Homo sapiens: one gene and its partner. The protein of the gene in region 2 interacts with the protein of the main gene of each other region in a pairwise test. Each region holds a gene or a part of one and is shown on either strand. Other genes may lie near its edges.

Region 1 (3,938 bases), about 65 Mb from region 2:
AAAGAATCTTTTCCTCAACTCCCTGAGCAGGAGACACAAGAAGGGATTAATGAGGGACAGGGAACAAATGGCTCAATTTAGGATGTTGGTAAACACTTTGAAGTCCCTGGATGAATTCTTTTATATTCTGAAATCTGTTACCTGAAAGAGTTAATGAGAAGCTTTTGCATGGTCCTAGAAAGGCTCATTTTTGTTGTTGCTAAAATACATTTTATTACGGAGAATTTTAAACATACATAAAAATGCAATAGTATAATAAACTCCCATGTATCTAAGACCCAACCCCCAAAATCATCAATCCATTGCCATTTCAGGAGGGTTCATTTTCAAAATGAAAGGTGACTCTTTAAAGCTATCAGCGGAAGAGTCCCATGCCACGGGGCAGGGAAAATGACCATTTACCTGAGATACTAAAACACTAAAAGGATAGGTAACTTGCCCCAAAGCAGACAGTGGGCTGCCTGGCCTTACACTTGAGGCCCCAAAGATGTTGGTCTTTGCTGACAAAACCCTATAATTGGTGTTGGCTCTACCCACTTGTCCACTGACCCCTTCCAGAGCTCCACTCTCCCCAGATCCAAATGGTGGTGCTTAAATTTGGGCAGGAAAAAGCAATTTAATCTATAGACCTAATGGAGCAACACCACCAACCAAGTGGCTGACTGACTTCACAGAAACTTTGAAATCCCAGTACCTAGGAGAATCCAAAACAGCTGAAAGGCAATTGTGGCAGACAGAATAATGGCCCAAAGATATCCACATCCTAATCCCCAGAAATTGTGAATATGTTAGATTATATGTTAAAGGAGAATTAAGATTGCCAATCAGCTGCCCTTAAAACAAGGGGTATTAATCTGGATTATCCAATCCAGGTGGACCCAATCTAATCACAGGATCCTTCTAAGTTGAATAGGGAGGTGGGAGAGAGGGTCAGAGCAAGAGAGGTGAGGATGGAAGCATCAGTGAGGTGTGATGTCACTGGCTCTGAAGATGGAGGAAGGGGGCTGTCAGCCAAGGAATACGAGCAGCCTCTAGAAGCTGGAAAGGATAAGGAAATGGATTCTCCCCTAGAACTTCTGGAAAGGAATGCTGCCCTGCCAACCCCTTGGTTTTAGCCCAGTGAGACTGATGTTGGACTCTAACCTACAGAACTGTAAGATAATACATCTGTGTTGGGAGCCATTAGTTCACATAATTTGTTACAGCAGCAACAGAAAACTAACACAGCGGCCATACACAAAGTATCTCTCAGACCCGAGCCCTAGTAGGATCACTGAGGTCCAAAGACACCTCAGCTGCTCCAGAGATTACCCCAACAGTCAACTTACAACAAAGGTCAGTTTGATAAAACAGCTTTAACATAACTTTGACCTTGGCTCCGGTACTGAACAAGTCTCTTGCGGGCCACATGTTTGCTCGTTCGACACGTTTCACTTTTTAATTAGCCAATTAGCAGGCCTTGGGTGCAGAAGGCCCAGGCCATGTATTATTGATACAGCATTGAGCCAGGCTGCTGCAGAGGCCCGCTCTCAAAACCTGAAAATGAGAACTCCAATTCTGCCGGCCATGCTGACAAAAGTATTTTGCTCAAACCCCATTCTTGTCTCCTGGGTCTGAAACTCATATGACAGACAATCGAGGGATTGATTTCAAAAATGTGTTTGCTCTGTGCCCTTCTCCCGATGTTTACATCTGCAGCATCCAGAAATGTGGCAGCCCACATCACTCTCCCCCTTAAAAGACAAGGAAAGCAGCTGGGTGCGGTGGCTCACGTCTGTAATCCCAGCACTTTGGGAGGCTGAGGCGAGTGGATCACCTGAGGTCAGCAGTTTGAGACCAGCCTGGCCAACATGGTGAAACCCTATCTCTACCAAAAATACAAAAATTAGCTGGGTGTGGTGGCACATGCCTATAATCTCAGCTACTCGGGAGGCTGAGGCAGGAGAATTGCTTGAGTCCGGGAGACGGAGGTTGCAGTGTGCCGAGATCATGCCACTGCACTCCAGCCTGGCCGACAGAGCGAGACTGTCTCAAAAAAAAAAAAAAAAAAAAAGATAAGTGAGGTGTGAATTTGCCCCTGGCTCACACATGTGGTACCCACACCTCCAGAGTGTTTTCCAAATACTGACAACAAACTTGTGTCCATGGAAATAATTCCTTAAGTGTGTGTGGTAAAGTACTATTTCCCTTGGAGTTTAATTTCCTTCCTCTTGCCATAGTTAATCCTACAGTGTCAATTTTAGTTCAAAAGTTACACATATAATCTTGTGTACTGTTGTTGTCTAGTGTCAAAATGCTAACCCATGAGCTCTCTGGGACTGCCCTGAATATTCTGTTAAGTTCTCAACACTGAAGATTTTGAAGACGGACCTCAGCTTGAATCCCTGTTCTGCCTCTTGCTATGTGACCTTGGGCAAGTTACCTTAACCTCTGACAGACTCAGTGTTCTTACCTATAAAATGGGGATAATAATGGTACCTATGTCATACTACTTAGGGCTGTCCTGAGGTTTAAATGAGACAGTGCAAACAAAGTGTTTGGCACAGGACCTGGCACACGGAAATCCCTTAAAGAATGTTAGCTATTTTCATGACTATCACTTAAAACATCAAAATGAAGGTTGAGAGGAAAGCTGTGAGAAGGAGTAATGGGACAGAAAAGGTCAATGTCATTGTCAAGATCCCATGGGTCTGAGACCAGCCATGCATGGTAAAGCCATGGTAAAGAACTCCAGAGAAGGATTCTGAGAGAGATGATAAAAATCCATTTAAAGACATGGGTGCTGGCAGGTATGGTCCCAGGTATGAGGACCAAAGAACTCCCAGAAGACTGTTGGGAAAATTCTAGCACATGCAGTTGGAGAAGCATGTCCTCAGCACCCTCAGGGCACCACATCAATTTCAGCCCAGGATCTGCAGTTAGGAGCCCAGGCTGCCAGGAATGGGAACACTTCATCTCGGGTGCAGGCCTGTGACTATCCCTATTTCATTTTCTTTTTTTTCTGTCCCCATGGTACGAGGTGGCTTTCCAACAGGCTGTTTTCAACTTGATGCAAACTGAAGATGAGACCAAATCAGGCAAATAACTGCCTGGTGGGGTTGTAGATGGAATTCAGAGTAAGATTCTTTTCCTGAGTGAAGGGGCAGGGGAACTTAAAACTCCCTCTGAACTTTCCCCGTCATTGGTTGAACTTTACAATTCTGACATCTCAGGCAACCCGATGTCAGGGAACATCAAGGGCAGGACGGATGTGCAGACCAAGAGAAATAAGAATCACAGCTCAGGAGGCAAAACGAAAGCAACAGCTTTACCTTAACTTCCACTTCTGGGGCTGGGAATTCACCAGCTCGCGGGAAAAGCAACAGAACTGATGTGATGATCACAGCACCGAAGAATAAAAAAATGACAGAGAACCTGGGGTTAAAAAGACAAATTATTAAAAGCACTGTCTATAATTTCTTCTTTGATCAGTTAGGTCTGGACAGTCTCTTCCTTGGAGCCAATATTCTATGTTTCAGTCCCTTAACAATGTCCAGAGGCCTGCTGTCAACAACCTCTTCATCCCAAAGTCCTTCTTCCTAGACAGGTACCAGCTGGGTGCATTCCCATTTATTCTTGGTAATTCCCAATTCCTAAGAATGGAAATGTGTAGTTTTTATTTTTACTTCTGCCCAAAGTCATAATCAAGAAAAACCAAAGCATCCCCTCTCCACCTCCACTTCTGTTGTTTTTAGAACAGAATACTTTAGAAAATTCTACAACTCTCTGCTTCATACTAACACTGTCTTGCCAGAGTGCAACTCTAGTGTTTTCAGAGTCGGTTTATGGCCTAACCCTGTTCTGAAGGCAATGCCTGATATAGAAAGCAGGCCCAACTCATCAAATGTTGCTTTCGTTTTCCTGGGTCCAGGGCTAGAGCCTCGGGTACTGGACCAAGC
Region 2 (3,938 bases):
AACTCCTGACCACAAGTGGTCCTCCCAGCTTGGCCTCCCAAAATGCTGGAATTGCCAGGCATGAGCCCTGATGCCAGGCCAAAAATCTCTTTCTGATTAAGAGAAACCACATTTGCCAAGTACAAATGAAGTCCTAAAAATTATCTTATATATAACTATATGTTACATTTATAGATACTTAAAAAATTGAATGAAAAATGGGTATTGATGAATTGCCTTGTGGTACAGCAGAGAGTCCTGGCTTGAGAGTTAAGAAATTTGTCTGCTGATTACTGTCTGAAAGTCAGAAGAATCATTTCCATTATCTGGGTCAACATTCAATCAGAAGAAATAGGGGTGATTTTAAAATGTATTCATTCAGTTTTGATTATTTATTACTTCCCTGATGGTTCATTTTTAAAAAGTGAATGATATGTTTGTTGGCCATTTGTATATCTTCTTTTGAGAATTGTCTATTCATGTCCTTAGCCCATTTTTTGATGGGATTGTTTGTTTATTTCTTGGTGATTTGTTTGGGTTCATTGCAGATTCTGGATATTAGTCCTTTGTTAGATGTATAGATTGTGAAGATTTTCTCCCACTCTATGGGTTGTCTGTTTACTCTGCTGACTGTTCCTTTTGCCGTGCAAAAGCTCCTTAGTTTAATTAGGTCCCAGCTATTTATCTTTGATTTTATTGCATTTGTTTTTGGCTTCTTCGTCATTAAATCCTTGCATAAGCCATTATCCTAAGTGAAGTAACTCAGGAGTGGAAAATCAAACATCATATGTTCTCACTTATAAGCGGGAGCTAAGCTATGAGGATGCAAAGGCATAAGAATGACACAATGGACTTTGGGGACTCAGGGGGAAAGGTGGGAAGGAGGTGAGGGATAAAAGGCTACAAATTGTGTGCAGTGTATACTGTTTGGGTGATGGGTGCACCAAAATCTCACAAATTACCACTAAAGAACTTATCCATGTAACCAAACACCACCTGTTCCCCAATAACGTATGGAAATAAAAAAAATTTAAAAAATAAAATGAATAAAACTAATTGCATGGAAAGACTAAATAAATAAATAAATAAATAAATAAATAAATAAAGTGAGCAGCATCAAGTACAATTCTGTGTCCTAGGATGTGAATTTAAAAGGGAGGTTTGTATGACTATTGCTGGATATCTGCTAATTGAGGGAGGACCAAGAAGAAAATGGTTGAGACTTAATATTCCTTTATCTGTTTTCCTTCCTATTTTCAAACAGTTCTGTAGTTCAGGAACCTTGTCTGTTGTAGCAGGGATAAAACCCACAAGAACATGGGTAAGTAGCACTTCCTCTTTTTCTATGATCAGAGGAGTAGAAATATATTATTCATAAACAGTAGGACAGTAAGTGTCCATGAATACAACTGAGACACTGAGTATCATTTAATGCACAAAATATTAGTTTTCTTAACGTGTTCAGATGGTAGGTCAGCAGATCACATACATTGTGAGGATGCATTCCTGGGATGCTTGCTCTTAATATTGGTGAACTTGAAGCTTAGAAAAAGTCTTCTTGATTTTTATGTGTTGTCAAGTTTGACCAATTCTAATTATTTGGAAGTAAGAACTCCCACCACTAACTAGTTTGACAACTGAAAGTCCAAACTTCTATTCTAAACAACTGCTAAGTCTCTATGATGTGTTCTTAGTGAGTCACGTAGCCACTGATACTCCACTTTCCTACTCCATTCATTCACTTTCCCTCCTCCATGGATAGCTATTTTACCATTTTATTGTATCCTCAAACACCAATCCCACTTCTGTCATCCTTACTCTCTGCTGATGATTTTTCTGTCTCTTCTGAGAAAACTGAAGCCATTAGAAGGGAATTTTCAGACCTCCACTACTAATGGACTAGATCTGTACCAATGTATTTTTTTCTTCTAGCCTCTTACCATAGGAAAATTTTGTGATTTTCTTTAAAGCTGATCTCCCTACTTGAGTATAAGATTCCATTCTTTTTTTCCCCACACAAGTGCATCACTTTAATTTTTGTCTCTCTGCTATATATATATTTTTCGAGTCTCACTCTGTCACCCAGATGGGAGTGCAGTGGTGTGGTCACAGCTCACTACAGCCTCCACCTTCCAGGGCTCATGCAATCCTCCCACCTCAGCCTCTCACATAGCTGGGACTACAGGTGTGTGCCACCATCCCTGGCTAATTTTTGTCTTTTTTTTTTTTTTTTTTGTAGAGACAGGATCTTGCCATGTTGCCCAGGCTGGTCTCAAAATCTTGGGCTCAAGCAGTCCTCCTGCCTCAGCCTCCCAAAAGGCTGGGGTTACAGGCGTGAGTTACCTTGCCCCATCTCTAATCAGCATGTAAACATCCAGTTACTGTTCTCAACTTAAAAACAAAACAAAACAAAACAAAACAAGAAAACCTTGACATTATTTCTCCCTGCTAGGGACAGGCACAATTTGTATTTTCCTTCTGTAGCTAAACTCCTTCAAAGGAATCATCATGTTCTTTCTCTGATTTCCATCTACCGGTTTGAATCAAACCCACTTCAATAAGACTTTATTTTATTCCCTACTATCCTTCTGTAACTGCTGTCTTTAAGATCACTGAAAACTTCCACCCTGCTAAAACAACGGTCAACTCTTGTTCCTCATCTAACTTAAGCTATGAGTAGCATTTAGCATAGTTAGTCGCCCACTCCTCCTTCCAGGAATTTCCTCACTTGGCTTCCAGCATACATTGCTTGGCTGGTTTTCCTCCCATCTTTTGCTTTCTCCATCTCAGTCTCCTTTCCTGGTTCCTCTCCTTGTCTCTGACCTTTTAATGTTCTGGTGCCCCAGAGCTGAATTCTTTGCCACCTGCTCTTCTCAATCTATACGTACTTCTTCTGTGATCTCACACATTCTTATGACTTCAAGTAATATCTGTATGCCCACAACCCTGAAATAAGTATTTCCAGCCCAGGTGTCTCTCCTGATCATCAGACTGGCATGTAAAGATCCAAAGCTCAACTCCCAGTCTTCTTCCTCAAACCTTCTCCTCATGTCAGCTGATGGGAATGTCATCCTTCCAGATTCCCAGACCAAACACCTTAGAATAACCAAGAGTCTTCTTTCTTTCACAATCCTGAATCCTATTTATCAGCAAATAATGTTGGCTCTACTTTCAAGCTATTATTATATCCAGTTTTGACCTTTTCTTATCTTTCTATTGATGACATTTCATCCAATCCACCTTGTCTCTCCTAATTGGGCTTCTAGCTTTTATCGTTGAACTTCTCTTTGCCTTGCTAGAAACAGTGATCCCTTGAAACCATAAAGCCAAGTATATCATTTATTTGCTCCAAATCCTTCATTGGCTTTGTATTTTTCTTAGAGTTAGAAACAAGTTCCTTTTCATGATCTGCAGAGCCCCACATGATTTGGCTCTCTGTTAACTTTCCTTCTTCTTCATTTCCTAGTATTGACTACGTGCCTCCAACGCCCTTGACCCCTTTGCTGCCCCAGAAGATTCTGGCCTCAGGATTTTGAGTGTTTCCCTAATTTCAAGGATATTCCCCCAGATATCCTCCTGGCTGGCACCCACAGCTCTTTCATGCCTCTCCCCAGTGTCATTTCTATTTAATATCATGAACCCCCACTCCTCTCTTTGGATTCCCAGATTCTCCTTATCCCATTCTGTTAGCCCCTAGTACTTAATCACTTTCAAAAATATTATGTAATTTACCTATAGTATGTTTACTTTTTTCTTTGTTTTTATTGCTAGAATATAAGCTCCATGGAGGGTGGGGGACAGAAATCTTTCTTTGGTCATTGATGTTAGCCTCGCATCTAGGATATCAGTGGGTGTGTAAACAATATTCAATCAATGTTTGTTTCAATGAATTGTTGCCAAAGGAATGAAGTACGTGCTGCATATATTAATTGAAAATTCTTATTCTTTTTTAGATACAG

The links. Proteins that work in one complex are often made in the same cells at the same time.
Region 1: the proteins of MS4A3 (region 2) and TMEM218 interact in binary tests that used the Homo sapiens proteins (3 or more experiments, as listed by UniProt).

Annotation. Positions count from the first base shown.
Region 1 is NC_000011.10:125,097,890-125,101,827, forward strand, and holds part of TMEM218 (transmembrane protein 218), read right to left. Parts: intron 3,633-3,938; coding exon of another isoform or gene 3,555-3,632; intron 3,415-3,554; coding exon 3,312-3,414; intron 1-3,311. UniProt on the Homo sapiens protein: May be involved in ciliary biogenesis or function.
Region 2 is NC_000011.10:60,063,019-60,066,956, forward strand, and holds part of MS4A3 (membrane-spanning 4-domains subfamily A member 3), read left to right. Parts: intron 1-1,243; coding exon 1,244-1,300; intron 1,301-3,932; coding exon 3,933-3,938. UniProt on the Homo sapiens protein: Hematopoietic modulator for the G1-S cell cycle transition. Modulates the level of phosphorylation of cyclin-dependent kinase 2 (CDK2) through its direct binding to cyclin-dependent kinase inhibitor 3 (CDKN3/KAP).